Regions from separate parts of the Homo sapiens genome. Here regions 1, 2 and 4 are each linked to region 3. Evidence: fine-mapped expression QTL. A gene starts in region 3. Each other region holds a variant in brackets. All regions are shown on one strand. Distances are between the middles of the regions.

What was found.
Region 1: its variant is fine-mapped to the expression of KRT10-AS1 in whole blood (TOPMed, PIP above 0.99).
Region 2: its variant is fine-mapped to the expression of KRT10-AS1 in naive CD8 T cells (Schmiedel 2018, PIP 0.95).
Region 4: its variant is fine-mapped to the expression of KRT10-AS1 in whole blood (TOPMed, PIP 0.92).

Annotation. Positions count from the first base shown.
Region 1 is chr17:40,871,459-40,879,379 of GRCh38, forward strand. It overlaps KRT20 (keratin 20), which reads right to left. Exons shown (of 8, transcript NM_019010.3): 6 at 6,687-6,907; 7 at 5,922-5,959; 8 at 4,431-5,000. The coding sequence ends at 4,903. All of the region lies in intron 1 of LOC105371777 (a long non-coding RNA gene), which reads left to right. Among named protein-coding and RNA genes, the nearest start is that of KRT12, 8.2 kb to the left of the region's middle. The variant A/C (reference allele first, on the strand shown) is at 4,218.
Region 2 is chr17:40,780,530-40,788,450 of GRCh38, forward strand. It overlaps KRT27 (keratin 27), which reads right to left and starts at 2,021. Exons shown (of 8, transcript NM_181537.4): 1 at 1,521-2,021; 2 at 659-741. The coding sequence starts at 1,964. The variant C/CT (reference allele first, on the strand shown) is at 3,026.
Region 3 is chr17:40,814,608-40,822,037 of GRCh38, forward strand. KRT10-AS1 (KRT10 antisense RNA 1) reads left to right here and starts at 4,538. Exons shown (of 3, transcript NR_160888.1): 1 at 4,538-4,601. It overlaps KRT10 (keratin 10), which reads right to left. Exons shown (of 8, transcript NM_000421.5): 1 at 7,352-7,430; 2 at 6,428-6,510; 3 at 5,904-6,060; 4 at 5,655-5,816; 5 at 5,442-5,567; 6 at 4,910-5,127; 7 at 4,180-4,554; 8 at 3,510-3,875. The coding sequence ends at 3,869. RefSeq lists an enhancer at 5,048-6,247.
Region 4 is chr17:40,842,739-40,850,659 of GRCh38, forward strand. No RefSeq gene overlaps it. Among named protein-coding and RNA genes, the nearest start is that of KRT12, 21 kb to the right of the region's middle. The variant A/C (reference allele first, on the strand shown) is at 4,513.

The DNA of each region.
Region 1 (7,921 bases), 57 kb after region 3:
TTTTATCCTATTTTACAGATGAGCAATCTGAGAGTCCAGATGTTAAGTGATTTATTTACGCCCATGCAGCTGGGAGGAGGCAGAGATAGGATTCGGGCCTGCAGTGCCTTCTATAGATACCACAACCTTGCTGCTGGCGGTGACAATAAAAAGGGCAGAGGATACTCTGACATCCCCTAGCTATGACACCTGACACTAGGCTTCTGCCCTGCACATCTAACAGGAGGTGCTCTTTTTTTTTTCTTTTCTTTTAAGCTTTCTCCTTGAATTTCTCAGTGTATGGGCTGAGACCTAGAGAATGACTTTTCATGGCTTATAAGCAACAACATGACACATGAAATTCTGTAAACACACAGGCAAATGCGGTTTTCATTTTAGCTTTGACCTGTAACTACATCTCCAGAGATCTTATAAAGCACAAGTTAAACTTGCACTCCCCACACAAGAACTTGATGTTATGGTTGTTAACTATTATTCACTCCCAAGTGTCCCCCAAGACAGAGAGATTCCATTTTACTGCCATAGAAATGAAAACAGAAGCAAATAAAATGTCAAAAGAAATGTGCCAAGTTCAAAATTGTACCTCAGTGATTTGATCACATAATACGGGAATATGATTAAGTTGAATTTTTGAACTTGGAATTGATTTTGTGCTGAAAGGTACACTTTCCAACTCTAATGCCTATGGTAAAATTTAAATAATATTGCTCAATCTCTAAAAATTATGTTTATATATTATTTGTTTATGTTTCTATACATATAACATATTATCCTAGACTAAGCTTGTTAGGTAGGTACTACATCTAATTTATTTTTTATCCTGAGTCCTAGCCTAGTGTTTCGCTGAACTTTATCACTGCACTCCTTGAATGATTTCATTTGAAAGAAGTTAAGTCTTAATGTGTTTGAATGTGTCATTTGAAATTCATTTCATTTGAAAATGACTGTGCCCTAATTTACTGGTATGCTTTGACCAATATTTATTCTGAATTCAGTTATGAATGGGGAGCAACTTCAGAAGTTGAAAAGGGAAATATTTCTTCTTCAGTGGCTTTTTTTTTTTTAAGTGGGAGGCTAAGTTAAATAATCAAGACTCTGCTTTAGAGGTTTTAGAAGTGAAAATAATTTTCTTTGACAGCCACATTAATGTATAAGGCAGTGGTGATGTAAAAAACAATAAACAATCTTGGGCTTGTTGGCAGAGTGATTGCATAAGTTGAGGCAGAGAGGAAAATGATTATAGCCAGGGCAAACTGTTCAAAAGAATTATATCTTCCATTTTTGTAGAGTTTAGGAAATGTTCAAAATAGAGAAAATTAGTTATGTGGTTTTTACAAGTCTTTAGATTTTTATTGAGTAAATCATACCCTCATCTTTTCATGTCAGGTTGGTTTCTGTCCTGGTCTTTGCAGGGTTTTCTACCTGAGTTTTTTCCCGTAAGACAGACCTGTCATTTTCTGCAACTCGCTGATCCCTTGATCTGTAACATCTTTCACTTTGGATAACATTATAAAATCCTGTGAGTGACTGAGAGAATTTTGGGTTGCCTACATTTTATGTATTGTGCTTTTGAGATGAGGGTTAAACAAGGACCCTAAGGGGTATGAGTGAGATTGACTTCTGGGCTCCAGAGATCAATGGTTCTTGAAAGCAGGGGAGAATTTTGAAAGTGGTAGGAGACAGGAAGATGATAAAATAATACCCTGATGAGAGGAATCTTGGAAATGAGCCTAGGGGAGAGAAAACAGAGATGTTTGAAAGAGAATTCAAAAATAAAAATCACTACTAATGCTTTAAGTTGGAATTGTTACTTGGGGGTCTAATCAGGTACCTGAGGCTGATCCTGATGCATGTGGATGAGAACAGAGTGTCTGAGGAGGTCACTGGCCATGTTTTGATTTTGTATCACTCCATGTCATTCTCCTTTTTAGATGATTCAGAACTCTGGGTAGAAATAATCTCCAGAGCTCAGAAAAAATAGTTATTTCCATCCTAACCTCACCTCTAGGGGCTCTCTCTGAGTTTGATAGCTTCACTTCTGCACTGACAATTTCATATAAAATGAAAAAATACATTGATGATAATTCTAATGTGTGATAAAGACTTCTCTCTGGATCTGTTTACCTGTCAGAAATAGGATTATGTCATTCTAGTTCTTAGCTCATATCAGAAATATAGATAGATACAAAGATTAATGCTTCACTTTCACACAGTAACTGCTGGCAGAACTGGAGGTAGAACTCCACCATCTGGTCCACATGTATGTAGCTCTCACTCACTTCTTTGAAAGATTGCTTGGAAGAAACTAGAGACAGACCAAAGAAGCAAGAGGAAGAAAAAATCTTCATTTTTCTGATCTAAAAATAACAATTCTACTTCTTTTAACAGGTAGTTAAAAGAGGACCATCCTAAATTAAGAATAACAATCCTACCTCTTTTAACACAGTGTCATCATTGCCATATAACAGTGGTCAGGCCTAATCAGTTACAAACCCATCTGCATAGGTTTCTTATTAATCAGATTCACAGTCTGGTATTTGCATGTCAAAGTTTCAGACTATTCTGGAATGTGTCTCAGTAGGTGAAAAAGAATTCACTTTTAAATATTCTTAACATCTTTAAATGCAACTTACTAGCTAGCGTGACTTGGAAGAAAATTAAGAAAAAAATGAGTGAAATCTTTTCACTTTGGAAAAGAAGGCAATGAGAATAGGTGAGAATACCTTTTCTGACAAAAGTTGTACTGAATCAAGTCATGTGTGATGTTAGCCAGCAAAGCTGGACATTTGCCACAATTGGCTGTTGTGTCTGGCTGATGAAAATGACAATTAGAAAACAACAAAATAACTGCGGATAGGCAAGTGCCTATTTCAACTGTGAATCATGTATTGCTTTGTTATGTAATTAGTTGCTTATGAGGGTGTCCTGGTTTTAGAGAAACAGCGCTGAGGTTCAGTCTCGCTCTACTACTTGGTAACTGCTTGACTTTGGGAAAGTCTTTATCTCATGTCTTCATATGAGTCCTCATTTATCCTCATATGTAAAGTGGGGGTAACATAATAAGGTTGAACCTTATTATATATGCTATATAATAGCATATAAAATTGCTATTTCTGAAAGTCAGAAATTATCATATATTGGAAAGCTTTAAAAAAATCTTTATTCTTTCAATTTAAAATAATGAATCAAGTGCCTGCTATGTGTTAGATATTATATTACATCTTAGGAATTCAAAGTGGTACCATTCACATCCTCAAAAATTCCCAACTCTTAGAAATTATCATATATTGGCAAGTTCATATGATTCAACCTAATAGCTTCTACCTCACAGGATTATTGTGAGAATTAAATGAGAAATGCATGAAATGTTTGGCACACAGGCTCATAGTAAGTGCTCAATAAATGGTGGATATTATTATTCTTAAATGAATCATGTAATTATTTTCTATATAATAATCAAACTCAATCCCACTTATTTGCAACTTCTGTATCAAGTTTTAAGTCCAATCTATTTACTGGAATACAATGATTTAGCACACATTGATTTTTCCCATAAACATTCATATGCAATGATTGCTCACTAAAATGCAAAAAGGGTGAGGATACAATATGTGTTTTTATTGTTTTTGGATTTGGCTTCTTTCACTTAGCATGTTTTCGAAGTTCATCTCTGTTATAGCATGTATCAGTACTTCATTCCTTTTTATTGACGAATAAGATTCTATTGTGTGGATATATTACATTTTGTTTATCCATTCATCGGTTGATGGACACTTGAGGTGTTTCGCTTTGGGGCTTTTATGAGTAATGCTGCTATGAACATTTGTGTATAAAAGGACACATCGTATTAACCTATTTATATGAAATGTCCAGAGTAGGCAAATCCGTAGAGACAGGAAGTAGATTAGTGGTTGTTAGGGGCTGGGAGGAAGGGAAAAGGCGGTGACTACTAATAGGTACAAGATTTCCTTTTGGGGTGATGAAGTGTTCTAAAACTAGATAGTGGTGATGGTTGCAAAACATTGTAAGCATACTGAAGACCACTGAATTGTACGTTTTGTAAGGGTGAATTTCATGGTGTGTGAATTATATCTCAATAAATCTGTTATTAAAAAAATGAGAGACATTTCATTAAAAATATATGTTCACCATATAAAGAAAGAGAGGACCTGATAGTATATGCAGCTTATTATCAAAAGGAGACACATTTTGCCTTG[A/C]GAAGGGTTTCAGTAATGTTGTTTTTAATCTATTTCCATTTTAAGTATAGTGTACTTCACTCTTATTCTGCTCAGCATTTGTGATTGAATTTGACTCTCAAATTATTCAAAAAGCTGTGTTGAGTTTTAAAAGGCAGTGGAAGCAATGGGAAAAAGCAGATATAGCTCAAAGGTTGTAGAGTTGTACTGATGCTGAAAAATCAATAAGATTAACCCAGAAATTGGCTCAATAAGAAACCAGGGACTCCCAAAGGGGGTTTTACAATTCAGAAACAGGAAAAAATTAGAAAGTGGTTTATTTGCAATTTACATGGATTCCTCTACTTTGTGAGGTTTAGTATAATTGAAATGTATTGCAATTTTCAGGAACATTACCTACAAATTGATATTAGGTGGTCTACAGCTTGTAATTGATGTGCTTCATGATAAAGATGGCAGTAATGATGTTTTAAATATTCTAGTGCTCACTGGATTTCATTTTTGCAGGCAATTTGCAGCTCCTCTGAGTAAAACATTTATATTCAATTACAGAGTCTGATAAATAGGATTCCCGCCACCCCACCCCTTCTAATCACTGCAGAGTATTAATAGTGCTTTCTTATGGCTGATTTCTTGCAGGGAGCAAAGATAAGATTATAGCCAAATTTCTTTCAAAACCTCAGCAGCATCTCCTTCTGGTAGCTATTTAGATATTTTCTTCCACCTCTTTGACTTCAGATGACACGACCTTGCCATCCACTACTTCTTGCACGACTGTCTTAATCTTCCTGGTTTTCTTTATATCTGAATTCATATTAAACATTAAATGTTAATTCAGGCACATGACTCTGCTGATTTATAATATTCAACTTTAAATTATTATTCTTTTTACTTATTTCCTTCTTTTAGAAAAATATGTTAAACCCATCCTCTTTCTCAAAAAATCTTAAGTCCATTTTATAAATAGATGCAGAAAATGTGCTTCTCCCCAAATTTACAAATGTCCTACTCTTAAAAATTCAAGAAATAAATTATCTTGAATTTAAGTGGAATTCAAATTTTGTCTTGTTTTTCCTTTTCAGGATGTCAGGATGTTTCAAGATAGCAATAGCACAGGCCAAGAAAATCACCCCATTCTGAGGAGTGTGCCCAAGTTCCCATGTGGAGGGTTTCTTTATGCCATGTACAAGATTTTTAGAATCCCTGGTGTCATATCTGCTCCCTTGAGAATTGGCCTTTGCTATGGTTTGAATGTGTTCCCTGGAGTTCATGTGTGGAAAACTTAATCCCCAATGTAACAGTGTTGGGAGGTGCGGCCTAGTAAAAGGTGATTAGATGATGAGGGCTCTTCTCTCATGGATGGATTAATGTGGTTACCATGATAATGGGTTAGTTATTGTGAGAGTGGGCTAGTTCTAAAAGAAAGATTAGCCTCCTCTTGCTCTCTGGTTCTCATGGACACTCTTTTGCACTTCTACTTTCTGCCATGGGATGACACAGCAAGAAGGCCCTTACAAGATGCCGGCACCTTGATATTGGACTTTCTGGCCTCCAGAACTGTGAGCCAAGTAAACGTCTATTGTTTGTAAATTATCCAGTCTCAGGTATTCTGTCACAGCAGCAGAAAACAGACTAAAACAGCCTCACTTTACTTTTTATCAGTGGCATGTAGTTAATAGAAAGCAGCTGAATGTCATAGAAAATGTGCAAAAATTTAGAACTTACCTCTCTCTTCCAGGGTGCTTAACTGATATTCTGTAGTTCTGTTTTTTTTTTTAATGAAAAGAAGAAAAAAGAAACAGAAAAAAGCATTATTGCTGTTTTGAAAATGGAATGCACTCCTGTCTTTTATATTTCAAAGTCCAAGTGAATGTGTTATTGCTTTCATATATCTTTCCCTTTTACATTGCTTTTATTGCAAACTTGAGCATTTTACTTTTTAACTTGAAAAATACATAGATTTAAAACTGACCAGTTTAATATATGCTAAGAAGTTCCTCTAATTAAAATAACAAAATTACAATGGAAGTTTAAATCTTGTGTTCTCTTGTTGATATTCTTAGGTATGGTATCTGAAGACAGTTGCTGCTGCCACACTTATGATTCTCAGACTGGCTCCCGTGGACCTCAGCAGCTTATTGTCTAATTCATGAGCTCTCAATTAGAATTTCCAAAAGGTTATTATGCCTTCAATTATATATTAATGATGAAAATTAATATCAGCATAATCTATATCATTTGGAGAATTATCTCCAAATGATCATGTGGTAGAACTCAGTCCTACCACATGATCTCAAGGCTGTACTTGATATTTTGGGCGTGTGTGTATTTTTTGGTATATTTTCGTTTTGTTGTTCGTGGTGAGGCATGTGTGAGTATAATTGCTTCTGTCCTAGGGATTGCATTGGTGCTGGGTAATGAGTGACAGGGACATTAAAATAGAAGTGCATACAGATATTGACACCTATTCCTTGATTCTAAGAGCCTTACTTTACGTCTTCTCCTTCCAGAAGGCGGCGGTAAGTAGCAATTTCCTGTTCAAGTCGAGTCTTTATGTCAAGAAGGATATGGTATTCGTTGTTCTGGCGTTCCATGTTACTCCGAATCTGCATCAGTTGGGCCTCCAGAGAGCTCAACAGCGACTGGAGGTTGGCTAACTGGCTGCTGTAACGGGCCTTGGTCTCCTCTAGAGTGTGCTCCAAAGACTCTTTCTATGAGCACAAGAAAAATAGGGCACTTCTTATGTGAGGACTTGATTCAAGAGATGGGTTAATTTTAATTTCCTTTGAGAAGGGTCTCTGCAGTTCATCACTGTGGGCATGGTGTATATTTCTAGCTCCATCTCCCACTCTTCCCAACTAGGCAACCTCAGCCAGCCAGCTAGGATCATTAGCTCTTGGGGTTTTTCTTTGCTTGTAGCTTTGCACCTACTGTTCTTTCAGTGCGGCGCATTGTAGCATTGTTCTCAGTACTTGCTTCCCCACTGTGTGAAGATGTTATACCTCTCACTCCTTCATCAGACCTGGCCATGTGATCTGTGGCATTTCTCAATTGCAGGATTAGATTCCTTTAATCCATTGACACCTGGCTGGGTCATGTGACTCTCTTTGGTTAATAAAATGCAGGTCAAACTGACAAATGCCTTTTCTTTTTCTTTTTTTTTTTGGGACGGAGTCTTGCTCTGTCGCCCAGGCTGGAGTGCAGTAATGTGATCGCAGCTCACTGCAACCTCTGCCTCCTGGGTTCAAGCGATTCTCCTGCCTCAACCTCCCAAGTAGCTGGGATTACAGGCACACACCACCATGCCCAGCTTATTTTTGTATCTTTAGTAGAGATGGGGTTTCACCATATTGGCCAGCTGGTCTCAACCTCCTGACCTCAAATGATCCTCCTGCCTTGGCCTCCCAAAGGACAAATGCCTTTTCTAAGGAGAAGCTTTAAGAGCTATCAAGTGGACCAACCATTGCTCTTTTCTTTCTGCCAGGACACTGGCATGTCCTAGGTAGGGCCTACCCCTTTAGCCTTGCCCTTGGAAAGGAAATGTCACGGTGGATGTAGTATCATGGCTGCAGGCCACTGTGGTTTGAGGGATTCTGCTTACCACAACATAATTTGTCATGGGCTTGCTGATTTGCTTGGCCTGGAATGTCTCTAGTCCATTCTCCATCTTAAAATTTTATCTTAGATTTTGAGATCTGGTATAATGGACACATACAGGGGAATAG
Region 2 (7,921 bases), 34 kb before region 3:
TCAGACTAAGCTTTGAGGTAAAACTACTAAGATAATACTTAAAACTTCAGGCCGGGCGCGGTGGCTCACGCCTGTAATCCCAGCACTTTGGGAGGCAGAGGCGGGCGGATCACGAGGTCAGGAGATCGAGATCACGGTGAAACCCCGTCTCTATTAAAAAATACAAAAAATTAGCCGGGCGCAGTGGTGGGCGCCTGTAGTCCCAGCTACTCGGGAGGCTGAGGCGGGAGAATGGCGTGAACCTAGGAGGCGGAGCTTGCAGTGAGCCGAGATTGCGCCACTGCACTCCAGCCTGGGCGACAGAGCGAGACTCCGTCTCCAAAAAATAAATAAATAAATAAATAAATTAATTAATTAAAAAAACACATTTCAGTTAGGTCATCTATCATGCAATAAATACATTTCATTGAAGCAAGAGAATGGGAATAGCCAAAATTCTTTCTCATATGACTTTGACACTCGTTTTTGTTAGTCCCGAAATTTCCCAAGTAAAATTTGTTGCTCAGCTAGTTACTCATTCTAACAGGCATTTTGTTTAAAACAAATACATGAATAAACAAGAACAAAGGCTTGAGACAACGTCAAATAACTTAGAAGAATAAAGGAGAAAAAATGCTTAGACAACTTTTTTTTCCCATTTATCTTCAGCTCTACTTACTTTAGTCTGAAGTCATCAGCTGTTAGTCTTGCATTATCATTTTGCAGGACAACATGGGCATTACTGGTAGTTGCAGAAATTATCTGACAAATGAAAAGTTAGTTAAGATTGAGGAAATATTTAAGATGCATTTCAAAGTTCCTTGAAATAAAATTACCCATGAAATTATAGTAATATTTCTGGCATCTGTCTCTAATAATCAGACCATTCTTTTGAAGATGGGTAATTTAAGTATGGTCTCTCTCTCTGTCTTTTATTTTGAGACCGAGTCTCGCTCTGTTGCCCAGGCTGGAGTGCAGTGGCACGATCTTGGCTCACTGCAACCTCCACCTCCCAGATTCAAGTGATTCTCCTGCCTCAGCCTCCCAAGTAGCTGGGATTACAGGCATGTGCCACCACGCTCGGCTAACTTTTGTAGTTTTAGTAGAAACAGGGTTTCACCATGTTGGCCAGGCTGGTCTTGAACCCCTAATCTCAAGTGATCCACCTGCCTTGGCCTCCCAAAGTGCTGGGATTACAGGCTGAACCACTGTGCCTGGCTGGGTATGGTCTCTTGTATTTCCCACCCCAAGCATTAAAAAAAGCTCTTTCTATGGGAAAGCCTATAAATATATAACTGGAGACACTGGACAGCTTTTGATATTTTAATATTACCAAAAGCATATACCTAATACTACATGATGGACGTGCCATGTTCAAATATTAGAATTTATTAGAAATTATTTTTAATATTGAAAATGAACTCCTAAAATTTAGAAGCTGAGGGCAAAGCCCTGTTATTGTGATAGCTTATACATTTGTGCATCTGTGAGTGGCTAAACACTCTCAGGAGTGCTAACACTCACGCCATGGCGTTTCTTACCTGGTTCTTAAGTTCGTCAATAATTGGGAAATATCTGCTGTAATCATGATCAAGGCCACGGCAAGAACCAGGTCCAAATTTCTCATACCACCCCTTGATCTTCTGCTCCAAGTCAGCGTTGGCCTCCTCTAGGGCTCGAACATTCTCCAGGTAGGAGGCCAAGCGGTCGTTGAGGTTCTGCATGGTCACCTTCTCATTGCCAGAGAGGAGGCCGTGCTCATTCCCTGTGAAGGCAGCACAGGAAGCACTTCCCCCGCCCAGACCTCCGCCATAGCCTCCTGCAGATGAGCTGCCCCCAAAAGCACAAGAGAAGCCACTTCCAATGCCTGGCACACCGCATGTGTTTCCAGCCCCAAAGCCTGCTCCCCCACTAGAGAGCCTCACAGAGCCAGTGCCCCCGCAAGAGCCAAGTCTCCTGGAGGTAGAAGAAAAGCGCACAGACATGGTGTCCGGAGGCTGGAGCCTTTGTTTCTGCGGTGATGCTCTGATGGTGAACGGCCTACTCAAACAGCTTGGTTTGCCTTTATATACACATTATTAGGGTGTTTCTTGATGAGCTTTGCTCATAGCCAAATGATGTTTGCCAGCTCATTGTGAATTATCCATAATGGGGTGATTTTTTTTTTTTTTTAATGAATGGCTTTACCATACTGTGTCCATTTCTGTAGGTGGATAGTTATTGTGGGGTTATTTGTTATCTCTGGAGTTGGACAGGGTGGAGTATTATCAGGATTATTATAGTGATGCATTTCAAATTTAGTATGAGTAACTCTTCCTGTCTTCCAGGCTTCAGGAATGCATAATACCTATAAGAATAAAAAAGTATGATAGACAGATTTCTCTTTCCCTTGCTCAAATCAGCATTGCATTTTCTTCAGCAATGAAGTATCATAGTATCAGAAGAAGGAGGGGAGGTCCTAAAGGAAAACTGAGGCATTAAAGGGAATCTTCTTTGGAGACAGAAAGTGTTCCTTTGATCCTTATCCTTCCTGAATTACCATTTCATCTGTACTGGTTTTCTGTCTAAGTTCCATTGCTAACCAGGTTAAGTAAAGGAATTGGTCACCTCCTCGGGCCTCAGTTTCCACATCTGTAAAGTGAAGGGTCTAGACTGTGGTCTCTATATTCACTTTCTGTCTGTAGATTGCTCATATTTCTGCATTCCTTCTATTGGCTGTCCATTTCCATAGCACTTTTCTGCATTGCTTCTTGTACTTTTCACCTCTTATTTCTGAATTGTGGTCCCACTATTTTACTGAAATTAACCTCTCAGACATCACTGCACATCTCTAATCATCATTTCTTTTATTTTTTCCCCTATACCCTCTTGGTTACATTCAATACTGACAACCTCAGTCTGATGAGTCTGATCGAGTTTCAGACAGTTGCTTTCTAAGAAATTTTCTACATCTCATGTTGCTCCCCTTTTCTCTTCCACTTATAGCTCCTGTGCCCTACCTTTGTCATTTCTTATAGTTTTGTGCTTGGTATTTACGACTCTCTCT[C/CT]TTTTTTTTTTTTTTTTGACAGGGTCTCGTTTTGTCACCCAGGCCAGAGTGCAGTGACATGATCACAGCTCACTGCAGCCTCAACCTCCCAGGCTCAAGTGATCCTCCCACCTCAGCCTACCAAATATCTGGGACTACAGGCACACGCCACTATGCCTGGCTAATCTGTGTATTTTTTTGTAGAGTTGGGGTTTGCCATGTTGTCCAGGCTGGTCTTGAATGCCTGGGCTCGACAGATCCTCCCACCTTGGCCTCCCAAAGTGCTGGGATTATAGGCAGGAGCCACCTCACTGTCTTAATGTAAATTTTCCCGCACTGACTTGTCCGTTCTGTTTTACTACTTCCCTCTTTCCCATCTCTTTGCCTTTGTTCATGTTATTCTTTCCACCTGGTTTTCTTCTTCAGACTAAAAATTATAACAAATCATTTGAGATCTTGCATTTGCCAAGAATGATTGACATCACTTTCAATTACCTAGATTGAAAATGAAGTTGGCAAAAATATAAATTTTCATGACTTAATAAATGAGCTTGCGGAAAAAAAGCCAGAAAGATTTGTCAATCAATTTAATACATTATTAAAGTATTATGGTTTATTGTTTTACATAAAATTAGGACACCAAAACATTATTTCTTTGCTGTTTGTAGTTTATGCTGTTATATATGTGTACCCGTTACCTCATTACATGTTATAAATAATAAGACTTTTTAGAAGAAAAAGATTTATATTTTACTATTTCTTTTTTTTTTTTTTTGAGATGGAGTCTCGCTCTGTCGCCCAGGCTGGAGTGCAGTGGTGCCATCTCGGCTCACTGCAACCTCTGCCTCCCGAGTTCAAGTGATTCTCCTGCCTCAGCCTCCCAAGTAGGTGGGATTACAGGTGCCTGCCACCATGCCCGGCTAATTTTTGTATTTTTAGTAAAGACGGGGTTTCACCATGTTGGCCAGGCTGGTCTCAAACTCCTGACCTCAGACCACCCACCTTGGTCTCCCAAAGTGTTGGGATTATAGACTTGAGCCACCGCGCTGGACCTATTTTAATATTTCTAACTGAACTTTTTTTCTGACTTTTCAACAGGAGACCTCACATTTTCATTTTGCACTGGGCCTTGTAAATTATGTAGCCAGCCCGAATTGTTGGGTCTCTCTGAGGAAGCTGAAGAATCTCAGAGAAAATACCTCCAGATAGAATTGTTTGAGTGTTCTCCACAAAAAGGGAGCTCACTGTACAACCACTCTGGAAGGAAACACAGACACTTCACACAAAGCTTTCAAATGTTTAAGGTCTTACTCAAAACGAACATAATTTAAAATATCACGATACATTGAAAAACACTCCAACAAGAAAGACAGAGACTCAAACAAACAAAAAATAGCACTCAGGGGAAACAGAGATAATGAAGAACGTTGAAGAAAACTTTAAAAAAGAAACTACCTATAATTATTACTTTCAGAAGTAACAAAAATACTGTATATTTAAAACATGGATAGAACATCATTAAAATTGAACAGGAAGCACATAAAAGACCTCTTAGAATTAAAAACTAAGTCCCAAAAGAAAACTTCAATAGATGAATTGGAAAATAAATTTAAAAAAAAACTCCCCAAAATTAGAACAAAAAGATGAAAAGATAAATATGTGAGCCTTGAAAGAGCCAGTCTCTCTCTCTCTCTGTTTTTTTTTTTGAGACTGAGTCTTGCTCTGTCACCCAGGCTCGAGTGCACTGGCGCGATCTTGGCTCACTGCAACCTCCACCTCCCAGGTTCAGGTAATTCTCCTGCCTCAGCCTCCCAAGTAGCTGGGATTACAAGCACATGCCACCATGCCTGGCTAATTTTTGTATTTTTAGCAGAGATGGGGTTTCACCATGTTGGCCAGATTGGTCTCGAATGCCTGACCTCAAGAGATCCGCCAGCCTCGGCCTCCCAAAGTGCTGGGATTACAGGTGTGAGCCACCGTGCCTGGCGTAAAGAACCAGCCTCTTAAGATGAGTCCTGAGCAGCTAACTGGGCCTAAATTCAAATTAAAACCAAGCAACCATTTGCTGACTACAGGTCACATATTTACTCTGAGTTCCCAGAAAATGTGCACATCTGCTTAACTTTGGGACTTTCATAGCTTCCAGTTTATGCCACCTGAACCAAACAATAGGCTGTAACCTACATGGATCAATCAGAAGTCTGCATGCCCTGACTAATAAGAGCTAACTAAGCAAACATCAACCAACCAGAACTAAGTAAATTTCAATCCTGCATTTTGCATAAGCAGACCTAAGTGGGAACCTGGGTGGGAACTTTCTCTAAAAGACAAATTCCCTTCCTTTGTTCTCTGGAACACATTTTCATTTTACACCAAAGGCTGTGTCTCACCAGCTTGCTAGCTGTTTGCTGGAATGAAGTCTCTGTCCTTGAATTTCCTTCTCAGAGAACTTGTTTACAGATAAAAGAAAATATTAGAAAATGAGAGACTTGGGCCGGGCGCGGTGGCTCACTCCTGTAATCCCAGCACTTTGGGAGGCCGAGGTGGGCGGATCACGAGGTCAGGAGATCGAGACCATCCTGGCTAACACGGTGAAACCCTGTCTCTACTAAAAATACAAAAATATTAGCCGGCGGTGGTGGCGGGCGCCTGTAGTTCCAGCGGCTGAGGTAGGAGAATGGCGTGAACCCGGGAGGCGGAGCTTGCAGTGAGCCGAGATCGCGCCACTGCACCCCAGCCTGGGCGACAGAGTAACACTCCATCTCAGAAAAAAAAAAAAAAAAAAAAAAAAAAAAAAAAAGAAAAAGAAAATGAGAGACTTGGTCAAAGAAGAACAACATCAAGTAGGTCTTCTGGAAAGAGAGAAGGGAGAAATCATGAAGAAATTATTTTATAAACATATTTTCTGAAATACTACTCAGAACTAAACAACTGAGCTTCTAAATTCAAAGAGACCACCAAGAACCATGAATGATAAATGAAAAACATCCACAGTGAGGCACATCCACAGGATCTTTCAGAGAACCATGGCTGGGGGCGGGGGCGACAAACAAACACTTAAAATGTCAGGAGCAAAACCAACACATATTCAATTTTAGGAAAGCCATCATTCTAGTGAAGAATGCTTTCAAAATACGAACCCAGGCCAGGCGCAGTGGCTCACGCCTGTAATCCCAGCACTCTGGGAGGCCGAGGGAGGTGGATCACTTGAGATCAGGAGTTCAAGACCAGCCTGGCCAACATGGTGAAACCCCGTCTCTACTAAAAATACAAAAATTAGCTGGGCCATGGTGGTATGTGCCTGTAATCCCAGCTATTTGGGAGGCTGAGGCAAGAGAATTGCTCGAACCCATGAGGCGGAGGTTGCAGTGAGCTGTGATCACACCACTGTACTCCAGCCTGGTTGACAGAGCGAGATGCTGTCTCTTAAAAAAAAAAAAAAAGTGAACGCAAAATGATATCCAACCTTTTATTTCTAATCCTTTCCTAAGGTTTGTCACCTCATTTCTAAGTTTTTTTCTAATTGTGACTTATGTAGAGAACCAAAATTCTCTACTTTAACAACCACAAGTGAGGGTGGAATAAAAATCTTTTCCGACATGAAAGGTCTCAAAAAAATTATCTCTTTTGCACATTTTGTCAGGAAGCCACTAGAGAGAAAAACATGAAAAAGGAAAACTTAGGTTCCTGGAAATGGAGTTCCAATGTGAGCGCACTGAGTGAGTGTTCCCACATGACAGCTGGGTAGCAGGCTTAAAAAACAGCCAATGTTGCATAGGAGGACAGGAGATTCTGAAAGTGAGCACTTCAGGGGGATAGATGAAAATGATTTCTTGGTAGTTTTAATTGCATAAGAAAGTGGCATGAGAGATAAAGATACGGAGAAAACAGGGGTTAAACTACTTAGAAAATCGTTCTAACTTTAAACTAAGGGTCCTCCATGAATTCAGAAGGGAACGGAACGGCCTAGATCCTGTGAATTCTCAAAACTGACCAGCCATGGTTCCCTCCTGGGAGAGCAACCCACGACAAGGAGAAACTGCTAGGGGAAGAATCAAAATTATTCAGGAGAGGGTCACAGAGAGGAAGGAAACAGAAGGTCTAGATACAAGTGGAGGAGGGAAAAAAAGACAGGAAATTTCAGAAATCAAGCCAATGTATTTTTGAATCCTAGATAAAAACAAGAGAAAAGGGAGCTCTGTGAAGTTAGTAAAGCTATTTGGAATTATACTTTATTATTATTATTTTTTGAGACGGAGTCTCACTCTATTGCCCAGGCTGGAGTGCAGTGGCACGATCTTGGCTCACTGCAACTTCTGCCTCCCAGGTTCAAGTCATTCTCCTGCCTCAGTCTCCTGAGTAGCTGGGATTAGAGGCGTGCACCACCACGCCCAGCTACTTTTGTATTTTTAATGGAGAAGGGAGTTCACCATGTTGGCCAGGCTGGTCTCGAACTCCTGACCTCAAATGACCCACCTGCTTCGGCCTTCCAAAGTGTTGGGACTACAGGCGTGAGCCACCACGCCCGGCCTGGAATGATACTTCAGTCTAGAAGTTAAGGAACATGAATTGGCAATAAAACCAAGCAAAAGAAAAGGATTGAAGTAAAATCCCGGGAAATGTTAATACAAGATAATAAGGATGAGGAGCAGCATAGTGTCCCTATAGAAAATGAAAGCATACCGGAAAGACATGCCTACAAAACTGAGTAAGATACAACCCACCATTTCAAAGTGACTTAAAATCGCTAAAATGATAAAAGAAAAAAAAATTCCCATAAACCAGAATTAGAAAAAAACTTAGAAATGAGGTGACAAACCTTAGGAAATGATTAGAAATAAAAGGACAAAAACCTAATTAAACTAAGATACAATCACAGAAAATGAGAAATTTAGGGGAAATCAGTCACCAGAAGAA
Region 3 (7,430 bases):
CATTGTGGAAGACAGTGTGGCAATTCCTCAAGGATCTAGAACTAGAAATACCATTTGACCCAGCGATCCCTTTACTGGGTATACATCCAAAGGATTATAAATGATGCTACTATAAAGACATATGCACACGTATGTTTATTGTGGCACTATTCACAATAGCAAAGTCTTGGAACCAACCTAAATGTCCAGCAATGATAGACTGGATTAAGAAACTGTGGCACATATACACCAGGGAATACTATGCAGCCATAAAAAAGGATGAGTTCATGTCCTTTTCAGGGATATGGATGAAGCTGGAAACCATCATTCTGAGCAAACTATCACGAGGACATAAAACCAAATACCACATGTTCTCACTCATAGGTGGGAGTTGAACAATGAGAACACATGGACACAGGGTGGGGAACATCACACACCTGTTGTGGGGTAGAGGGCTGGGGGAGGGATAGAATTAGGGGAAATACCTAATGTAAATGACGAGTTAATGGGCGCAGCCAACCAACATGGCACACGTATAACTACGTAACAAACCTGCACATTCTGCACATGTACCCTAGAACTTAAAGTATAATAATAATAAAAAAAGTGGAGCAGATAGGGGAGTTGGGAGATTGGCAGGTAAAATTTTAAGCGGAAAATCAGAGTGGGTCTCAAAGAAAAAGTGACAACTGTGCAAAGGCTTGAAGGAGGTAAGGAAGACCATCTTGTTAAAGAATATTAACCAAGGTAACATCAAAAGAGAAATGGAGAGACATCAAAGAATTTTGATCAAATATAATTAGACTTACAATTTGATCTAATATATTAGACTTACATTTTAAAAGGATAACTATGGTTCTGTGTTGAAAATAAACTGTAGGGTAGTAGCTAAGCTTAAATGAGTTCATATACATGTTATATGTACTGAGTCTACCTACCTATCTGTATCTATCTATCTATCTATCTATCTATCTATCTATCTAATCTATCTATCTATCCATCCACACATTTACCCACCTACCTACCTATCTATCCATCCATCATTTACTCAGAACAATGCCCGGTGTGATTTAAAGGCTATTATTATCATTATTTTCATTGTCAAGCTTAGTTTAACCACAACTACCTCATATAAGGTAGCTATCCCTTATTGTATAGGTAAGTAAACAGACTCAGAAGGGTTGAAGTAACTTGTCCAAAGGTACATAATTTGTAAATGCCAGTGCCAGGATAGGAAGTCCAGGGATCACTGTGTTTCAGTTGCATGCTCATAAACCATGAATAAGCTCTTTCCCTAATTCCCATTCTCAAAATGCAATATAGATGAGAAATATTAGATGCATCCTATTTAACCTTAATCGAGTTACTTCCCTGATAAAGATGACCCTAACAAAGCTATTTCTTCACTCCCAAGCAAAATATCAAGCCATCATGGGCACCAAGATTAGGGTGCAAAGCTTTTAGGCCTTTAGCATCATAAGAGAACATCTTTGGGGAAACAGGATTTTATCGTGTAATATTTTTTGACATGGGTGCCGAATTGGCTCTGCCAATCTAATTAGGCACTACCCTGCTTAAATAGCAGGATTCTGTAATGACTTTAGAATCTGTAAGAATGCATACAGAATTTTTTGATTAATAGGTACATGCAAATTTATTTGGTAAAAATAGTGCCCTGTGCTATTTAATAATTTTTAAAAATAATTCTGTAATTTTTTTTACTATAAATACCAATGTCCTTATTAAAGACAAGTGGCTTATTTAGACAGATTATCTTTATTAAACCATAGTGTTGGGCACTGCGGCATGTGCCTATAATCCCAGCTACTCAGAGACTGAGGTGGGAGGATTGCTTGAGCCCAGTTCAAGACTAGCATGGGCAACACAGTGAGACTTTGTCTCATTAAAAAAAAAAAAAAAAAAGCAAAAACAAACCATAGTTATCCAAGTCCAATCAAGAAAGCAGCTGTTTATCTGAGATAAAGTATTTACTTTATCAGAGAGAATATAAATAATTGTTTAAGGAGGTATTGCAAGATTGAAATGGTAAGAAGACAGGACCACGATGTATGCAGACTTTTCAGGAATGAAAGTTTGGGTCACCATCCAACCACATAGAGGACTCTGACTGCTAAGATTGTGGCCTGGGGGAGGAGGGCAGAATGGGTAGAAGAGACAAACTTAACAGCAAGCACTGCTATCTCATAGTAACATATGTGTACTTGCCTCGTATCAGTGGTATTGAATATAAAAAATCTATTTCTTCAGAATAAGGTGAATGGTAACCTCAGATTATAAGTACAATAGGTCCCGGGGATTTGGTTAACCTTATAATACATATTTTAAAAGATGGTGTTTCTGAACAGCAGGCAGTATAGCACTATTTACACAGTAGGAGTTCAGAGTCCTTATACAGCGACGTAAGGACTTCACAGTGTTTCAGGGCTCTACGCAGTGAGGCGTGTTGGGACTTCAATAGTGGATCTGAGAAGACTGGCTCCCAAGGTTAGCTGGTACAAATATCCAGAGGCATGTGAGCATTTAGACATTTAGGCATTTAGAGGCACAGGAACGAAAATGGAGAGCCTCTGGGCTGTGCTAATATTTGGTGCTAAGCAGGTTATGAAGCCTTGACTATAGGGAAATCCATCCCATTGAAACAAGGCTCCTGTCATCAATTTGGGGTACAGAGGGTAGTGTCTACAGAGTGGAGTGCCAACAAATGGCATGGGGATCAGGGCTCAGATCTGGAGCTCAAATCAAGGATACTGAGGAAAGCTGCTACTTGGTGGACATGAGTAATCCAAGAACTCATCAGAGGACACAAGGTAGTCTAAGGGACACGCCAGCTTATTCCCTTCATAGGATCCCCAGTAGAGTACTAAGTAATGTTGGTTGGGTTCTTATTGGCTGAGGGATGTGACTGGGCTATGAAAGTACAAGGTCTTTAGTCCTGATCACTGGGCACAGTTGGGGAAGGCAGAGACCTAGTGGTGTCCTTTTGGTTACACTGGCATCACTACTTCCTGACAGCGTTTCTCACGTTCATCTGATGGACATCAAATAATTTTGTTGGGGGTGATATGATTTTACTTGGGTGGTGTCAGAAGATATGTCAAGCTATATAACAATTGGGAAGAAGTAATATAGTAACTGGAAGAAAGTAAGAAAAGGCAAAGGTGAGAAGTCAGGTAATTAGAAAATATAAAATTTCCAATTATTATTATTTTGGGGGTTTTATTTGAGATATTCCAGAATTTCCAGGATTGAAATAATTTAAAGCCAGAGAGCTGGGAGCCTTCCACATATTGTGTATCTTAAAGAGTAATATTGGGGATTTACAGACTTTACTCAGTGAATTTACTGACGGTGGTCTGAACATACATGATTAAAAAACTTAGAAAAGGCATGACAATAGTTCTGTCTTCCGAATTTCTGGATACATCAACCTTCAACTGCTATGGGTTACTAATCTTTAATTTTAAAGAGTATTATGTACTTAAGTAAAGATAAATTCTGACAAATTGGGATAGTTTGCATCAGTAAGAAAGTTTATTGAAATTCATTAGTAAATGAGAACAGAAAGTTGTTTTTCTTTCCATTAAAGAACACTTTCTGGTAAAGTGAAAAGAAGAAATACAGAAACCACAAAACACCTTGTAGACACCTTATTTTCAAGGTCTATTTCCATAGACCATCAAGACAGAAGTGTTTTCTTGGAGACTTTGTTTTCCATGCATCTGTAAATAATGGTCTGTGTGAAGGGAGACTCTTTCCTCTTGATGCAGTTTAATAGTAGTGTTTCTTGGTTTCTGATTCAACCATAGATGAAAGAACTCTACCGTCGGGCGCCACCTCTTCAATAATTGTCTTGATTACTCTGGTTTTGTTAGTATCTGTGTGAATGATGGAAAAAAAATTTTAAACAGTCTGTAGGGATCCTTAGTAATTAACAAGCAAATATTGTAAAAAGAAGGAAATTTCAACTTTACATTGTTAAGCCCAAAAAAATGCTTAAGGTATGACATTTTGATCATGCCATTTTTCACGGCTGGTGTTAAGAGTAGTTTGTGAACAAATGCAAACGGAACCGTCTCTAAGATTTTTAATTTTTTAAAACAACTCTAGAGCTTAAAGCGCAAAAAAACCATCACAGGAAGTTAAAACTAATTCTGATTACCCCAGCTAGTTTCTGCTGACCTTGGTCCCTTAGATGAAGACTCGCCCACGGACCCGGAAGAGGAGGACTTGTGGCCTCCGCTGGAGCTGCCGCCGCCGTATCCGCCGCCGGAGCTGCTGCCGCCGCCGGAGCTGCCGCCCCCGTAGCCGCCGCCGCCGCCGCCGGAACTGCCACCACCGTAGCCGCCGCTGGAACTGCCGCCGTGGCCGCCGCTGGAGCTTCCGCCCCCGTAGCCGCCGCCGGAGCTTCCGCCGCCGGAGCTTCCGCCTCCGTAGCCGCCGCCGGAACTGCCGCCGTGGCCGCCGCCGTGGCCGCCGCCGGAGCTTCCGCCGCCGGAGCTTCCGCCGCCGTAGCCGCCGCCGAAACTTCCGCCGCCGCGTCCGCCGCCTCCGGAACTAAACGGGGTGAGGTCACATTCGGTTATCTCTAACGTTGGAAAACGGTGGGTAGCTTTCCAGTTGCCGTTAATTTAGAAAATAAGCAAAACGTGTTGAAAAAATAAAACCCTGCCAGGTATATATTTTAAAACCCATCCTTTGAAAACAATGTTAAGTTCACAGAACTCTTAAGAATCATTTTGGGCCAAATTCATGAGAAAGTGAGATTGCGGTTGCGTACTCCTTTTTCTGTACTCTACCCTCTCTCCTCCCTTCCTCTCATTCTCTGGCATCTTCTTGGGGTTTAGATAAGCCTTGCTATCTGGAATATTGAATAAAAGAAACTGGGATAACTTTTCATTTTAAAATTTACCTTCCCTCTCCTTCTAGCAGGCTGCGGTAGGTTTGAATTTCATTCTCCAGTCGGATCTTAATATCCAGGAGTTGTTGGTATTCAGTATTCTGGCACTCGGTTTCAGCTCGAATCTGTTGCAACTGTTCTTCCAGAGCGGATATCTGGGCCTGAATCTGTGAGAGCTGCACACAGTAGCGACCTTCTGTTTCTGCCAAGGAGGCTTCCAGGGATTGTTTCTGAAACGGATTTTTTTGTGGCTTAGTGACTTCCTTGTTCAGTTGAGTATGGTGACGCTTATTTGATTATTTAGTAAGGCATTATATAGAAGAATAAGAAAATGAACAGAATTTGTTGTATGTTTAATGGCACCATTTCAGTTTCAGCACTTTTAGATCAACACTAGTAGTACTTTTCCTCCATTAACATGAGCTTCACTTTGTTTTCTCTTTCTTACCTCCAACTCTGCATTTTTTTGTTGCATTGCATATTCTTAGGTGAGCATGAAACTTTGTATGATAAAGTTGAAGTCATTTCATGAGAGTTAACATACCAAGGCCAGTTGGGACTGTAGTTCTATCTCCAGAGCTTGTACATTACGTCTCAATTCAGTAATCTCAGATTTATAGCTGGATATCTGTTCAATGTTATTATCAATTTCTGTAGTCAGTTCCTTGCTCTAGAGTATTAAAAACAAGGAAAAGGGTGAGGAAATTCTGAAATGATAAAACCTCCATGAGTTTCACTATAAGGAAGATTACTTTACCTTTTCATTGAACCAGGCTTCAGCATCTTTGCGGTTTTGTTCAGCAAGTTGTTCATATTGGCTTCTCATGTTATTCAGAAGTTGAGTCAGATCAACACCCGGGGCAGCATTCATTTCCACATTCACATCACCAGTGGACACATTTCGAAGGTCTTTCATTTCCTGTTTGAGGAACAGAAAGATTTATTGGCTACACGAGGACCATAATGAACTCTCTTTTGGCTGGGAAAAGTATAACTTTTGTGTCACCTCCTCGTGGTTCTTCTTCAGATAGGCCAGCTCTTCAGTCAGGCTCTCAATTTGCATCTCCAGGTCAGCCTTGGTCAGGGTCAGCTCATCCAGCACCCTACGCAGGCCGTTGATGTCAGCCTCCACGCTCTGGCGCAGAGCTACCTCATTCTCATACCTGAAACAAGCATGATATCAATACTGGTTATAACTTATATAGGGGAGATGTATCTGGGCAGAGACTATTTAAAAAGCAGCTACATAGTTGATCTCATGTAATGGCAATATTTGTCATGTACAGTTCTCTTAGAAGTAATAGTGGTTTAATGGAAAAAACCTTAGCAGTTACTTTAAAATGCATTTTCTTCCTTTAATATTGCCAAAAAGGTAACACTGACATGGAAAATTTCTCAGATAACTCCAATACTATTTAACTTTGGGTGAATTCAGAAAAATGTAAATGTTATTGAGGGCATCCCAAGTCATTGTTAAAAACCACTGATGTATTCGTTGTGATAGTATTATACAACGATCACTTAACTTACTTCAGCCTGAAGTCATCAGCTGCCAGCCTGGCATTGTCGATCTGAAGCAGGATGTTGGCATTATCAGTTGTTAGGTTGAGAATCTGGAGGGAGAGGCACAGTTATTTGAGAAGAGGTCAGATGCAGATATGGCTTTTGTAGTGACATAGATGCACTCTGCACTTTTATGTTGTTCTCTTACAAAATCTTGGGAAAATTTTTTATTTTAAATATGAAATATTGCAGGCTTACCCATATACTTAACTTTGAATTATTTGTTCTCTTGGAATTTCTCCAGTCTTGTATTTCTGTACACGAATTATTCCTTTCTGAAAACTAACTGGAATTATATAGATGTATTCCTGTAAGTGTGCCCTCCTCTTTTAGACTATGTGATTTCCATGTATTTCAGCCATGCTTTGGCTGACTCACACCTGCATTTGTTTAACTCATGATAAATACTAATAAATAAATACACTCTGAACTGGTACACAATAGGTACAATTCAGAAATTCCTTAGAGGCAAGCAGTGTCCCATTTTCATACTGGAAAATTTATTTTTCTTGCCATGTTGGTACTGAATATGGCTTGTTATCAGTCTGAATAACATTTTGTTCTGATTCATATCATGATTTTTTTTTTCAGTTTCTACATTTGTAAATAGCCTAGCATATTTTAACTGTGGACTCATTGTATGCTCATTAAAACCTCAAAAGTGCTTAGTAAATCTCCCATCCTCTTAAGACAAGTAGCACACTTGCTGGATGAAGATTGCCATGACCATAGTTTCACAGATGTTTATCTTTGATGAGACTGGGTTATTTTTGAAGGAAGAAAGTAACATGGGTAAGCATAGTGAACAGCCACATTGTGCTTAATTTAAGATTCATCTGTCTGGATTACATGGACAAGATACTTAAAGCTGGATTTAAAAATACCTCTTACCTGATTTTTAAGGTCATCGATGGTTTTGTAGTATTTGCTGTAGTCACGAGGCTCCCCCTGATGTGAGTTGCCATGCTTT
Region 4 (7,921 bases), 28 kb after region 3:
ACTAATTGGTTTGGGAGAGATGGAGCAAGGGAATCGGTTAGGAGAATGTTAGTGTCTACATATGTCATCATGGACACAGAAAAAATAAGCTGATTGAAAGAATAATAATTATTATTTGATTACTGATTGGATATTGAGGTGGTCAAGACCAAGAAAGTGTCAGAATAGGAAAGCCAGGAGAAAGAGTGGTTTAGAAGTACAGATACTGAATCGGAAATGATGGTTGTACATTCTCATGGTCAGCCTTTTGCTTCAATTTCTTTAACATGTATTGGTGCAGGCTTCACAGAGCAGAAAACACTCCTGCATGCATATTGTTAGCTGTTCAGAAGCTTTCTGGACTTTCTTCCAATCCTTCTCTCTGTTCACTGCTGCCTGTTCACTGCTGCAGGTAAGGTAGGAGGAAAGAGAATATCTCAGGTGGGATCTGGTAATAAAATAAGAGGAGATCTAGTTATCTGTGGCAGCCTTATCTATTGGAACTACAGAAACAAGCTCACTTCTCTCCTGCTTGTCTCCTCATTAGATAAAAGGAAAGATTATGGGGGCAGTGGGTGGGAAGAGTAGTTAAGTTACAGGAGTTAACAGAGTTAAGTAACTATGATGATGAGCTCTTTCCCTGAAGAACCAAGCCTGTGTGCCAAGGTGGGGCCGCTTTTGCTCAGTGTGAGAGAGGGTGTTTCCCCCATCTCTGGGGAGGAGTAGAGGAACCAGTACCTGCTGAGGTTTCCGTCATTGTTTTGCTGCCCTCTTCCTCTCTGCCGCACCACTCTCCCACCCCCTGCCAGCTATCCTGTGTTCTGAAGTTGCTGCCTGGTACCCCAAAGCCACATTCCAGTTTAGTTTGTCCTCCTTTGACTTGCTCCATTTGTCTGTTTTCTCCTCTTTACATACTGAGACTTCTCAGCCTGGTGTGGGAATAGGTATTAGGAGGATAACCATCTGGTGAGTCTAATTCAGTCTAAGGTGTGACTTACTGACTGACTGCCAAAGGTGGGTAGGGTTGGAGAGGTATTCACTGAAGCTATTTACATTTTTTTAAAAAACACACCTTTGGGAGGCCAAGGTGGGCGGATCATGAGGTCAAGAGATCGAGACCATCCTGGCCAACATGGTGAAACCCCGTCTCTACTAAAAGTAGTCCCAGCTACTCGGGAGGCTGAGGCAGGAGAATCACTTGAACGCAGGAGGCGGAGGTTGCAGTGAGCTGAGATTGTGCTATTGCACTCCAACCTGGCAACAGAGTGAGACTCTGTCTCAAACACACATGTGCACACACACACACACACACACACACACCAAAAACAAAAAACACCTTTTATCTAAGTGGAATTTCAGGCACCGTGGTGGTAAAAATTTTGAAGAAAATATTTTTCTGTATTTTTCCAATTAATACAACTTGACTTTAAAATTAACTGTAGCAGGAAAAGCACTTTGTTGTCTCTAGGCCTCTTTTCCTCACCTTCTGGAGGGAAGGGACAGTATCTTGGCTCTGATTGTCCTATCTTTTGTACAGTTCACTGAATATATATCATATGCCATATATTTTACTGGGGTTCTGAGGATGCAAGGATAAGTAAGATGTGGTCTTTACCTTCAAGGAAGTCATATCTTTTGGGTCAAAGGGTAGGAGACAAGGCACAAATAATTACAAAATAGGATGAAGAGTTTGGAAATACAGATTTATCTAAAGTATATGAAGCACCAGTAAAAAGAAACCAGTTTCTGGAGGACTTAATGAGATGTCTTTTGAATGATGTCTTAAAGAATGACTTAGAATTCATTGTATGGGAAAAAAAAAATCTAGGCTGAGGGACCAGCAAGTATAAAGGAGACATAAACACACACGACGTATTTCAAGAACTGAGAAAAGTTTGGTTTAGCTGGGACATAAAGTTTATGTGAGTGAGTGCCAACAAATAAGTCTGGAAAATAGGTTTGTGCTACATAAGAAAAGACCTGTAATGCCATTTTAAGGAATTTGGACTTGATCCCTTAGTCATGGAGTGGACCGTTGAAAGCTGCTAAATAGGGGAGGAACATGACCTTAATTTTTTGAAAGATAACTTTGTTGACAGTGTACTAGATGGATTGGGGGGAAACTGGACAAAGGGAGATGAGATGGGAGAATTTGCAAGAGTCTGGGGAGGGGAAGAAACAATGAAAATTTCACAAAAGTGTCAGTGCAGTGATAAGAATGGGAAGATAGTCATAGATAAGGTGGCATTTGACTTGGCTGTTTGCCCGTTGATGATGGAGGGCATCTAAGATGACAAGACGTTTCTAGTTTTGAACTTCGGGGAATGCTATTGACTGATATGTGAATGCAAAGGGGGAGCAGTTTTTGTAGGAAAGATAACAAATTTAGGGAAAGGAAGATTGAGCCTGAGGTACCTATCAACATTCAGATGTAGATATTCCATAGGCAGCTGCAGTGTGGGTCTGAGATTAGGAGAGAAATTGTGATTTGGAAGTTACTGGCAAAGAGAAACCATGAACTACATGAGATTTCTCAGGGAGAATGAGTAGAGATGAGGACCATGGATAAAACCTTGAGGAGCTGCAATATTTAATGAGAATATAAAAGGCTTGAGAGATAACATTGAAAGATAAAAGGGAGAACCAGGGGACAGAAGTTTCAAGAGAGCCAGTGGAGAGGAGAATTTTGAGAAGATGGGATGGCCAACAGTGTTAAAGATGTCAAGTATGACTAGAACTGCAACATTACTTTACAATCTAGCTGTTTGTTCTGAAAAGATCCTAGAAGTACTGTTGTCTTTTGAGAACAGGGAATGAATTCTCTCAAAGCTACCAATTACAGTTAATACACATTCTCAGTCTTTATAGTTTAAGCATCATTTAATATGACCAATTTTGCAAATTAAAGGATCACTGAAATTGAAATAATTTAGGAAAGAGCTGAAGGCCAGAAATTACCTATATTGAGGTGGTAGTTGAAGCCTTTAGAATAACTGGATTTTATAAAGGGGAGAGCAGAAGTTTAAGGCTGAATGGTGAGGAAACCCTCAGTTAGGCTTGGCACAGAGGAAAAGTACCCAGTGAAGGAAGTGAATAAGGAGTGATCTGGAAGTCTGGAAAAAAATTCAGGCAACCAAGGATGGATTGTAGCATATTATGATTCACCTGGTAGAGTTTCCAGAAGGAGGTTCTTCCGGGTCTTGAGTTTCAAATTCTGCATAGAGACCAGGAAGAATGAGGACTAGAAATTAATGTGCATGATAGTGCCACAAGATCCTTGGAGATCTGGGTGCAAGAATATACTGGACAATGTAGGGGCACAGAAGCCAGACTGTCTGCCATTAGGGAAGGAAAGGGTGGTGATGGAATGAAGCCATCTGTGTCTTGCACTGCTGCAGCACACACAGTGAGTATAAAAGAAAAAAGAATGGTGTGGAGCTAAGCAAGGGTGGAATGAAGACAAGATGGTTGGGTGCAGAACATACTGGGAAACAGAAGCAAGTAGAATTTTATAGCTCTTTAGAGGTATTTCAGAAATGTTTCCTCTGGGAAATAAAGAAAAAGAGGGCCAGGCGCGGTGGCTCATGCCTGTAATTCCAACACTTTGGGAGGCCGAGGTGGGCGGATCACTTGGGGTTGGGAGTTCAAGACCAGCCTGGCCAACATGGAGAAACCCTGTCTCTTGTAAAAATACAAAATTAGCTGGGCGTGGTGGCACATGCCTGTAATCCCAGCTACTTGGGAGGCTGAGGCAGGAGAATCGCTTGAACCCGGGAGGTGGAGGTTGCAGTGAGCCAAGATCATGCCATTGCACTCCAGCCTGGGCAACAAGAACAAAACTCCATCTCAAAAAAAAAAAAAAAAAAAAAAAAGAGAGAGAAAGAGAACACTCAGGGAGCCAATAAGCCAGATAGCACAGGTAGGTACCTGGAAGGAGAGAGAAATCAGAAATAAGAGTGGTTCAAGACACAGTTCAAGAGCTCACATCAGTAATATAGGAAACCATCTGTTGAATGAGCCATTTAAACTGTATCATAGGGAACTTAGCATAAAGAACAGGCATGTGGTATAATTAAAAATGACTGAAAAAATTCTGCATTTTAGAAGCATCATTGTGGCGAATGTGCAGGAAAGTGAGTGCTCAGGAAGTTGGCCTTAGACAGCTGGAAAGATATGTCCTTCATTGCCAGTAAACTGGCATTCTAATGTGCACATCAGCATTGTGTGAATACAGTCACTGTAAGTCTATCATCAAGTGTCAGGTTACCTCTGGGCATGGTGAAGTCTAGTTTCTGGACCTGCAGGGCTATGAGGAACAGATTCTGGACTGTGGTAAGTTTTTTGAAGTAATTCAAATTTATATTAAATTTGTATTTTAAAAAACCCTTTTGATAATCAATCTAGTCTTGTGGGCAGCTTTTCATTTGCTTCATGATATATTCCTGTACCCTCCATGAGTGGTGTTAGGAAAAATGGCAGTAAGTATTACTTTTAACAGTTAGTTGGTAGAATAATTTACTCACCGTATTCACT[A/C]AAAAGCTGATGATTACAAATAGAAAAATAGTTTTAGGAAATGTGGAGCTTAGAGAGAACAAACACAAGTCATTCTTGCTGCCACTCTCCTGTACTCATGTCAGACATTACTAATTGATAACACATCTTCCTGCTGAACCCAGACTGGCTGGAGAATTATTCTTAATAAAATTAATCCAGGAAGCCCACAACCAATTGCCTGAATTGAGCCATGTGAATAAAAACTCTGCCCTTTCTTTCTTTGTTTTTTTTTTTTTTTGAGATGGAGTCTCGCTCTGTCGCCCAGGCTGGAGTGCAGTGGTGCAATCTCAGCTCACTGTAACCTCTGTCTCCCGGGTTCAAGCAATTCTCCTGCCTCAGCCTCCCAAGTAGCTGGGACTACAGGCATGTGCCACCACGCCCAGCTAATTTTTGTATTTTTAGTAGAGATGGGGTTTCACCATATTGGCCAGGATGGTCTCAATCTCTTGACCTTGTGATCTGCCTGCCTCAGCCTCCCAAAGTGCTGGGATTACAGGCGTGAGCCACCGTACCCGGCCCCAAAACTCTGCCCTTTCTAGTGTAAATGAGTTGCTAGGAATTCTGGTCATCAAAATTACAGAATTCAGCTGGAAAGAACCTAAAGTATGATTTATCTTTTGAATTTAATGTCATGGGGGAAGCTAAATATGCTCTTTGGCCAAAAGTCTGTGGATATTCTGACAGAAATAATACCAGACTGGATAAATAGACAAATTATCAGGATAGAATTATCTAGACCAATAATACATTCACTGTTATAGCTTCAACCAGAACAGAATTTGCAAAGGATATTAGAGGTCATTGCCAGGCTTCACCTTCCAGCATTGCCTGTTACAGGGTGTATGGTAAATTGCTTAATCTCTTTTAATCTTCACGTGAGAAATAATATCCAATTCATAAATCTGAGAATACCAATTTAGATAACACATACAAAGTGTTCTTCTACAAAGTGTTCTACACAGTGGGTACTCATAGACATCTGTCCTTTCTTTCTTCTCTTGTTAAATATTCAACACTAAACGGAACCCCTTATCAGATATCTCCAATCTCTACTAAAATATTTCTAGTGATGAGAAACTCATTGTCTCATGAAGCACTTCACCTTCCTTTGAAGTGCTCTAATTATTAAAAAGCTTATCTTTCTATTTAACTGAAATCTGCCACACAGAATATAGCTTTGCTGATGGAGAATCTTTTGGGTATTTGACAAGATTACTCTGTGTTTCTAAGTCTTTTATTTTCCAGGTTATGGATCACCAGTTCATTCAACTGTTCCTTAGATGACGTGGTTTTCAATTCCATTATCATGTAGGTTGCCTTAACTTGGATCACTTCTAAATCTGTAGGATTAATCTGACCTCTCTTTTTCTGTTTCTAGTATTAGCTTAGGGAATATTTTTTAAGGAATGCCTGCTAACTGTGTTTTATCCCATTGCACTTGATCACCAGCATAATGCTACTTCCAAAGATATAACACAGAATTTATTGTTTTCATATGTAAATTTATAGAAACTATTTAAATTTAATAATTAATTATTAGTAACCTATAACCCCCCCCCCCCCCTCACCACTCCTTGGTTTCAGGGTTTGGTTTCAGGGTGGCTCAGGTGTCTTGAACACATTTGTAATGGAAACTTGATAAACTCCTATTTTGGGTTCACCCTCTTTTCTTGGGTGTGGGGCCAAAGTTTGTCACTTAGATTAACTAGTTGGCTTGCAAGCTATAATTATCTTCCTCCTCCAATTAAAATCACATTTCTGTATTGCCACATCTAGTTATTGCAAAATCTAGCAATACACCTTGGATTCTTATTTCCCTCTAAGCAGACTTTCCCTGACGATTCATATTTTTTCTTCTGGGTTGTTCAACTCTTAGGTATTGCTCTTGTCCCACTGCTGAGTAGGACATTGTTTCCAACAAAGATTGATCATTGGGTAATTTACAATATTGTTGGTTTTGTTTTTCTGTGTCTCATTTGCTGTATTAGAATGATTAACACACATTATTATATTATTATTTCTAGATTTGATTAATAGAATTTTGGGTGACTCATATACTCCAGCTATACCTATGTGACAGCATAATTGGATCCAAAATGAAAAATTCAATCAACATAGGGTTTTATTTTTAATTGTGCCAAATGAAAGGCTTAATTAATAATTTTCATTGGATTTTAGCTAATCCGTTTACCGGAATTTTTCAATCATGTGTTATGAATGTATAAACCTAATGTGATATTTCTAAACATCATTTCAACCTACATGTATTTGGCATGCCCACATTTTCTGCCAGATGCTGCATTAAGTACTGGGGACTTATTTCTGGATGGCCAATAATACCTGGCCCAGCCTTTGAGGAGGAATAAGATACAAAAATTCGTCTTCTAAAAAGGAAGTGCAGACTACCTGGGTCAAGGAACTTATGGTTCTCAGCTGGTGTGATGATTACTTAGTTTTATGGGAAAACACTCCAGAGGACACGCTCTTTGGTCCTATTCTTGCCAATCCACTCCCATTTAATACCATATGTTGAAATTTTATGTACTCCTCAAGGCTCTGCTCAGATGCCTTTCTGCTGTAAAGAGTGGTCCTCATATCCCAGCCCTTTATATTACCTCCCTTTTCCAAACTTCTGTGGCAGGTCACTTTATACCTGGCGAGGCAAGGTTATTTGCATACCTGACTAGTCCGCTCCCATTTGCTTCCATAGTGACCAGTAAATATTAGTTTGATTGAGAGAAAAGTGTATTTTACTTATTTTTAATTTTTATTCCTAACTGCTAGACCACCAAAGAGAGAGAGCACAATGTTTTTTAGATAGAACACCTCGTTATTAAGGGAGAACAAGTTCTATTTTGATCTAGATTGGCAGGAGTATTACATTTTCAGACTGAATATTTTCATGGAAAGCCAGTGTTCCATCAGCCATTTTAAGATAACTCAGTTTTGTATCTATGGTTAGGCGATTGCCTACATACAAAGCACACTTTAATGACGAATTAGAGGATTCCAAGCTTGCCTTTATAAGTGAATATCTACAGATTTTTTTTTCTTATAAATACTACATGGAAACCAAGTTACTCTATGTTTTGAAAGCAACTTCTAGTACTCTTTAGATGTATGGGAAAAAGTCCTCAGGTTAATTTCCTTAAGAAAAAGCGTCATGAATTAAAAGACTGCTTGTTGAAACTGAAGATCACTTTCTACTGAGTCACCAGATATTGAGCAATATGATTTATATCAATATGCCTTGTGAAATTGTCAAGTTAAAGATTGTACATATTAGATAAGAAAATTTTGTGTCCCTATAGAGTGACAAGTATCTTGAGGGTTTTCTGGAAATATTGAATTCAACAAATATCTCAGTAAAATGCAAACAACTTCTTGA